Regions from separate parts of the Homo sapiens genome. Here region 2 is linked to region 1. The links come from fine-mapping of genetic effects on gene expression. A gene starts in region 1. The other region holds a variant in brackets. All regions are shown on one strand. Distances are from middle to middle. Region 1 holds the start of ZNF830 (zinc finger protein 830). Region 2 overlaps LIG3 (DNA ligase 3).

Region 1 (2,911 bases):
GACCTTTCCCAATATCTTCCCTGCCTCATCTACTTTTCCACAAGCAAATCTTCTGGTTCCCTTAATATACCATGTTTTGTTTCGTTTCTGTTGGATTTGCACCATTGGTCTTTCTTATTCCTGAAATTACTTTGCCCAGGCCTTTACTCCCTCTTCCAACTAGTGAAGTCTTATTCTTCTTTCAAGACTGATCAAACATGTTACTTAAGATGCTTTTCCTTCTGCCATCAGTCCCTTTCTTCAGCATAATTATATGCATCTATATATAATTAGCACATCCTACTCTACCACATCCGTCTCTACCACATCTCCTTAAGAACAGAAACCGTTATCTTGATCATTTCTGTGTCCCAACAACTGGTACCTAAGTGACTTATTTTACCATTAATATTATTTTGTTCATTACTATGAGGATGTGTCTCTCCTCTTATACCCTTTTGCCCTCACTGGTCTCTTTTCCTCACTCTTGTCTATAGAAAAGGGTGCTTAATATATACTGAAAAGATGAATAGATCTGAACAACCATAGACACGGGGTATTCAAGTAGAACTTGGATTTGACCCCATGCCTTCCTGGCTCCAAAGCCTGTGTCCTCTCCACTACAATACATTGCCATACAAAAAACAAAACTACTTGTTGAATTTATGGACCAAGGGTATACAGTCTTAAGGAGCAGAGGAGTTAAATGCTTTGTTTCCAATGAGACACTAAATTAACTGACTTTCTAACTGCATATGAACCTTGACGACAAGTCGGGGGTCGGGGAAGCGCCACAGCTTCACTCCCGGGGCCCTCTACTAGGGGAGGCTTTTCTCCTCCACCTGCACCAGGCGAGAAATACCCCCAGAGCAGGGATGAGAATGAGGGAAATCAAGCTCGCAAGAACATCCACAGCGCTACGCGGACGCCTGCCTCAGAGGGCGACAGGACACCAACGGGCCCCTAGCCGCGTAATGGCCGCTCCAACCGCTGTCTCACATTTTCATGGTGCCTTTAGGACCCAAGTTGGTCCGCAGCACATCCTGCAGCCCTCGGGCGGCGCATATATTGACAGCCAAAGCTGCCCGGGCCCGCGCCACCTCAGCCTTGGAGTTGACGGCCTTTATCGCAGCCATAGCCTAACCGTTCAGAGGGAGAAAAAAAAAAAGCCTTAGTCGCGATTCTGAGCAAAAACGGCAATGCGACGCCACGCTCTCTTGAGCCTCGGCCAATCATCGCCCTTACAGGAAGTGACGTTATCATGCCTCGCCCGACGGAAACCAGAATCGTTTTGGGTCTGGTCGCCAAGATGGCGTCCTCCGCCTCCGCCCGGACTCCGGCAGGGAAGCGAGTGATAAATCAGGAAGAATTGCGGCGGTTAATGAAGGAGAAGCAGCGTCTGAGCACCAGTCGGAAACGGATAGAATCTCCATTCGCGAAGTACAACCGTTTGGGGCAGCTGAGTTGTGCCCTGTGTAACACTCCGGTTAAGAGCGAGCTCCTGTGGCAGACTCACGTCCTGGGAAAGCAGCACCGAGAGAAAGTGGCCGAGCTGAAAGGCGCGAAGGAAGCCAGCCAGGGTTCGTCCGCCAGTTCAGCGCCTCATTCCGTCAAGAGGAAAGCGCCGGACGCAGACGACCAAGATGTCAAGAGAGCGAAGGCCACCTTGGTGCCTCAGGTACAGCCCTCCACATCTGCGTGGACCACCAACTTTGACAAAATAGGAAAGGAGTTCATTAGAGCGACTCCCAGTAAGCCTTCAGGACTCAGTTTACTCCCCGATTATGAAGATGAGGAGGAGGAGGAAGAGGAGGAGGAAGGAGATGGAGAAAGAAAAAGGGGGGACGCCAGCAAGCCGCTCTCCGACGCACAGGGCAAGGAGCACTCAGTTTCCTCTTCACGGGAGGTAACAAGTAGTGTGCTGCCAAACGATTTCTTTAGTACTAATCCTCCCAAGGCCCCCATAATTCCTCATTCAGGGTCAATTGAGAAAGCAGAAATACATGAAAAAGTGGTGGAAAGGAGAGAAAACACCGCGGAAGCGTTACCGGAAGGTTTTTTTGACGACCCTGAGGTAGATGCAAGAGTACGAAAGGTTGATGCTCCAAAAGATCAGATGGACAAAGAGTGGGACGAATTCCAAAAAGCCATGAGGCAGGTCAACACTATTTCCGAAGCCATAGTTGCCGAAGAGGATGAGGAGGGACGGTTGGACCGCCAGATTGGGGAGATCGATGAGCAGATAGAGTGTTACCGACGGGTGGAAAAGCTACGGAATCGCCAGGATGAAATAAAAAATAAACTTAAAGAAATCCTGACCATAAAAGAACTGCAGAAAAAGGAAGAAGAGAATGCTGACAGCGATGATGAGGGGGAACTACAGGATTTGTTGTCTCAGGATTGGAGGGTGAAAGGGGCATTGTTATAGGGTTTTAAAGACCCAAGGTTTCTAACAGCCTCTGCTGTTGTATAAAAAGTGCTGTCTCTCAGTAGTATAGCGGTTACTTCATGCCTCAAGATTTGGGTACCTGGATTGCTAAACTGGATTGTTGAGATAAAATGAGCCAGTGAGCTACAGCACTTTGGAAAATTTGTGTAACATGTTTTTGAGGTAAAGTTGTTTTTGAAATTTCTGAAGTGTTATATACCAAAATGCCAACATTTCCACGACAGACTTAACTGTATAATTTCGTTGTAAAATCTGTAAGTTGTAAATATTGTACATAGTTAAATCTGTATTCTGTTTTGAATTTTTTTAATTAATAGAAAGACCAACCGGCAAACTTTCAGATGAATGCTTACTGTGGTATTTGGAATGTATGTATCTTCTGAACCCTACATCAAGTTGAAAAGGTTTGTTTTCTTGTTTCTTTGGTTTTTGTATGGTTTTTTAGAACACTTCATAAACACATAAGTCATTGTAGGTTAATCA
Region 2 (2,911 bases), 29 kb after region 1:
AAGCCCCCTCGAGCCCCACCCCTAAGAGAAGTCTGTCTTCAAGCAAATGTGACCCCAGGCATAAGGACTGTCTGCTACGGGAGTTTCGAAAGTTATGCGCCATGGTGGCCGATAATCCTAGCTACAACACGAAGACCCAGATCATCCAGGACTTCCTTCGGAAAGGCTCAGCAGGAGGTGTGGCATGAGCATCCTGAATAGGCCTTTCCTCCGGAGAGCTCAAGGCCATGGCTGCCTTCCTGGGCATGTGAGCTGTATAGTTGCCCGGGATCCCATGCTTGGTTTAATGCTGTACTGTAGTGCTATCTGGAAATTCTTAATAATTTTGAACAAGGGGCCTCGCATTTGCATTTTGCACTGTACTCCACAAATTATGTAGCCAGTTTTTCTCAGAGCACTTTGGCATCTGTCTTCCTCTCCCCTTATTCTGCTCCTAGGAGGCCAGAAGAACCCATCCTATTTGACTAGTTAGAAAATTTACTGTCCTACATATTTAATTAGGTTTTTGTGAACCATATACACAGTTTGGAATAGAATCTTCCAACTCTGTTTCTTTCATTTATCTAACAAATTGTCGATGAGCATCTCTGATGTCCTTGTCACTGGGCACGTGAAGTGAAACTAACCACTCTGTCCAACAAGAGTTCATCTGTAGGCTAAAGGTGAGGCAGACACAATCCACCAGCCTCTGAACTCCATGCTGTCTCCTACTATAGCGATATGCACAGGGTACTATAGGAGCATGGGCAGCGATATATAGATATCTTTTGGTCTCTGCTTCTTTGAGTTTGTTTGTTTGTTTATTTATTGAGACAAAAAATGTGGCTGTGTTGCCCAGGCTGGAGCGCATGGGTGCAATCTCAGCTCACTGCAACCTCCGCCTCCTGGGCTCAAGCAGTCCTTCTGCCTCAGCCTCCCAAGTAGCTGGGACTATAGGCATGTGCCGCTATGCCTGGCTAATTTTTGTATTTTTTGTAGAGACGGGGTTTTGCTGTTTTGCCCAGGTTGGTCTCAAACTCCTGGATTCAATTAATCTGCCTACCTCAACCTGCTAAAGTGCTGGGATCACAGGCGTGAGCCACCATGCGCGGTCTGAGTTTATTTTTTTATTTATTTTTGTGTGTGTGTGTGAGACAGTGTCTTGCTCTGTCGCCCAGGCTGGAGTACAGTGGTGTGATCACAGCTCACTATAGCCTCGACCTCCTGAGCTAAAGCAACCCTCCTGTCTTCTCCTGCAAGTAGCTGGAACCATAGGCATATGCCACCATGTCCAGCTAATTTTTTAATTTTTTGTAGAGATGGGGTCTTTCTTTGTTGCCAGGGTGGTCTCAAACTTGTGAGCTTAAGCAATTCTCCTGCTTCGGCCTCCCAAAGTGCTGAGATTACAGGTGTGAGCCACCTTGCCCAGCCTTCTTTGAGTTTATATATTTATTTGTTTAAGCTCTATTTCTCAAGAAGGGTTCCTTCTGTCTCCAGATGGTTTCCACGGTGATGTGTACCTAACAGTGAAGCTGCTGCTGCCAGGAGTCATTAAGACTGTTTACAACTTGAACGATAAGCAGATTGTGAAGCTTTTCAGTCGCATTTTTAACTGCAACCCAGATGATATGGCACGGGACCTAGAGCAGGTCAGAGGAACGGGAGGGAGGGTAGGCTACATTCCAGGTGGGGTTTTGCCAAGCCAGGCACCTGCAGCCTCTTTTTTTTTTTCTGGTTGGGACACATACTGTTTTAGGAAACTGAAACCCATTTGAGCAAGCTTCCGTTATAGGGGGAGCTGAATGTGAGGCTATAGCTCTTAATTTC[T/G]TAAGTTTCTGAGGGTGGAAACCATACAACTGCTGAACCACAAAGGCCTGGTTCTCAAAAGGCAGAATTTGAGACTTGCCCCCTCTGTCTCTCCTGGGGCTTTTATTCTGGACTCTTTTTTTCTTGCTTGTTTTCTCCTATAACTTGGCTTTACCAAGCTTTGGTTTGTCCGTGACTCTATCCCTGGTACCATGGCAAGTTTCCATCCCCTTCTAGGAATTGTGGATGGGCTAGTGTCTCTAAGAAGTGGGCTAGATATGTTGAGTTGGGATAGGAGCTATGATTGAAATTTCTTGATTCATCTTCAGTCCTGGGTCTTGGGGGATACACTTGGCCACCCTAGGGTTGCAGCAGTGGCATTTTGGTTTTTGGAGACAGGGTGACGTGTCAGAGACAATCAGAGTCTTCTTTGAGCAGAGCAAGTCTTTCCCCCCAGCTGCCAAGAGCCTCCTTACCATCCAGGAAGTGGATGAGTTCCTTCTGCGGCTGTCCAAGCTCACCAAGGAGGATGAGCAGCAACAGGCCCTACAGGACATTGCCTCCAGGTGGGGGAGCTGCCTCCGTCAAACCATGCCCATAGAGAGATGAACTCTCTTGGGAAGGGAAGGTTCCCTTGGGGTTCCAGAGCTCTTCAAGACCAAGTTAAATGTGCTTCATCCCCCTAGGTGTACAGCCAATGACCTTAAATGCATCATCAGGTTGATCAAACATGATCTGAAGATGAACTCAGGTGCAAAACATGTGTAAGTAGCAGCTCCGCTGACAGCCTGAGCTGTCATTTGTTAGCTTTGTTTGTTCCCAACTGGTGTCAGGACTTTTGAGTCCCAGTCAGGATTTGAATCCCCCTTCCACCTTCTTACTTTCTGTGAGACCCTGATCTGTCACTTGACCTGTCTCTGCCTCCATTTTTTCCCATATAAAATGGAGATAACAGTACCTTTCTCACAGAGTTCTTACAGTTGAAGTGTGGCATACGTTCAGTGAGTATAGTATGAGTCTCTTGCCTACTCCAGCCCCCTCCTCGCTAAGGCGGCATCCACATAGGCACAGTATCTCAAAAGAGCTGAATTTTCCAAGAGCTTTCTCTCCTCTTGTGAAAGTCTTT

What was found.
Region 2: its variant is fine-mapped to the expression of ZNF830 in whole blood (TOPMed, PIP above 0.99).

The regions. Positions count from the first base shown.
Region 1 is chr17:34,960,279-34,963,189 of GRCh38, forward strand. It overlaps ZNF830 (zinc finger protein 830), which reads left to right and starts at 1,262. Exons shown (of 1, transcript NM_052857.4): 1 at 1,262-2,911. The coding sequence starts at 1,289. The coding sequence ends at 2,407. It overlaps CCT6B (chaperonin containing TCP1 subunit 6B), which reads right to left and starts at 1,182. Exons shown (of 14, transcript NM_006584.4): 1 at 979-1,182. The coding sequence starts at 1,115. RefSeq lists a silencer at 712-1,006 and enhancers at 726-775, 876-1,095, 1,146-1,225, 1,306-1,555.
Region 2 is chr17:34,989,487-34,992,397 of GRCh38, forward strand. It overlaps LIG3 (DNA ligase 3), which reads left to right. Exons shown (of 20, transcript NM_013975.4): 4 at 1-177; 5 at 1,477-1,628; 6 at 2,185-2,351; 7 at 2,472-2,549. Among named protein-coding and RNA genes, the nearest start is that of LIG3, 10 kb to the left of the region's middle. The variant T/G (reference allele first, on the strand shown) is at 1,807.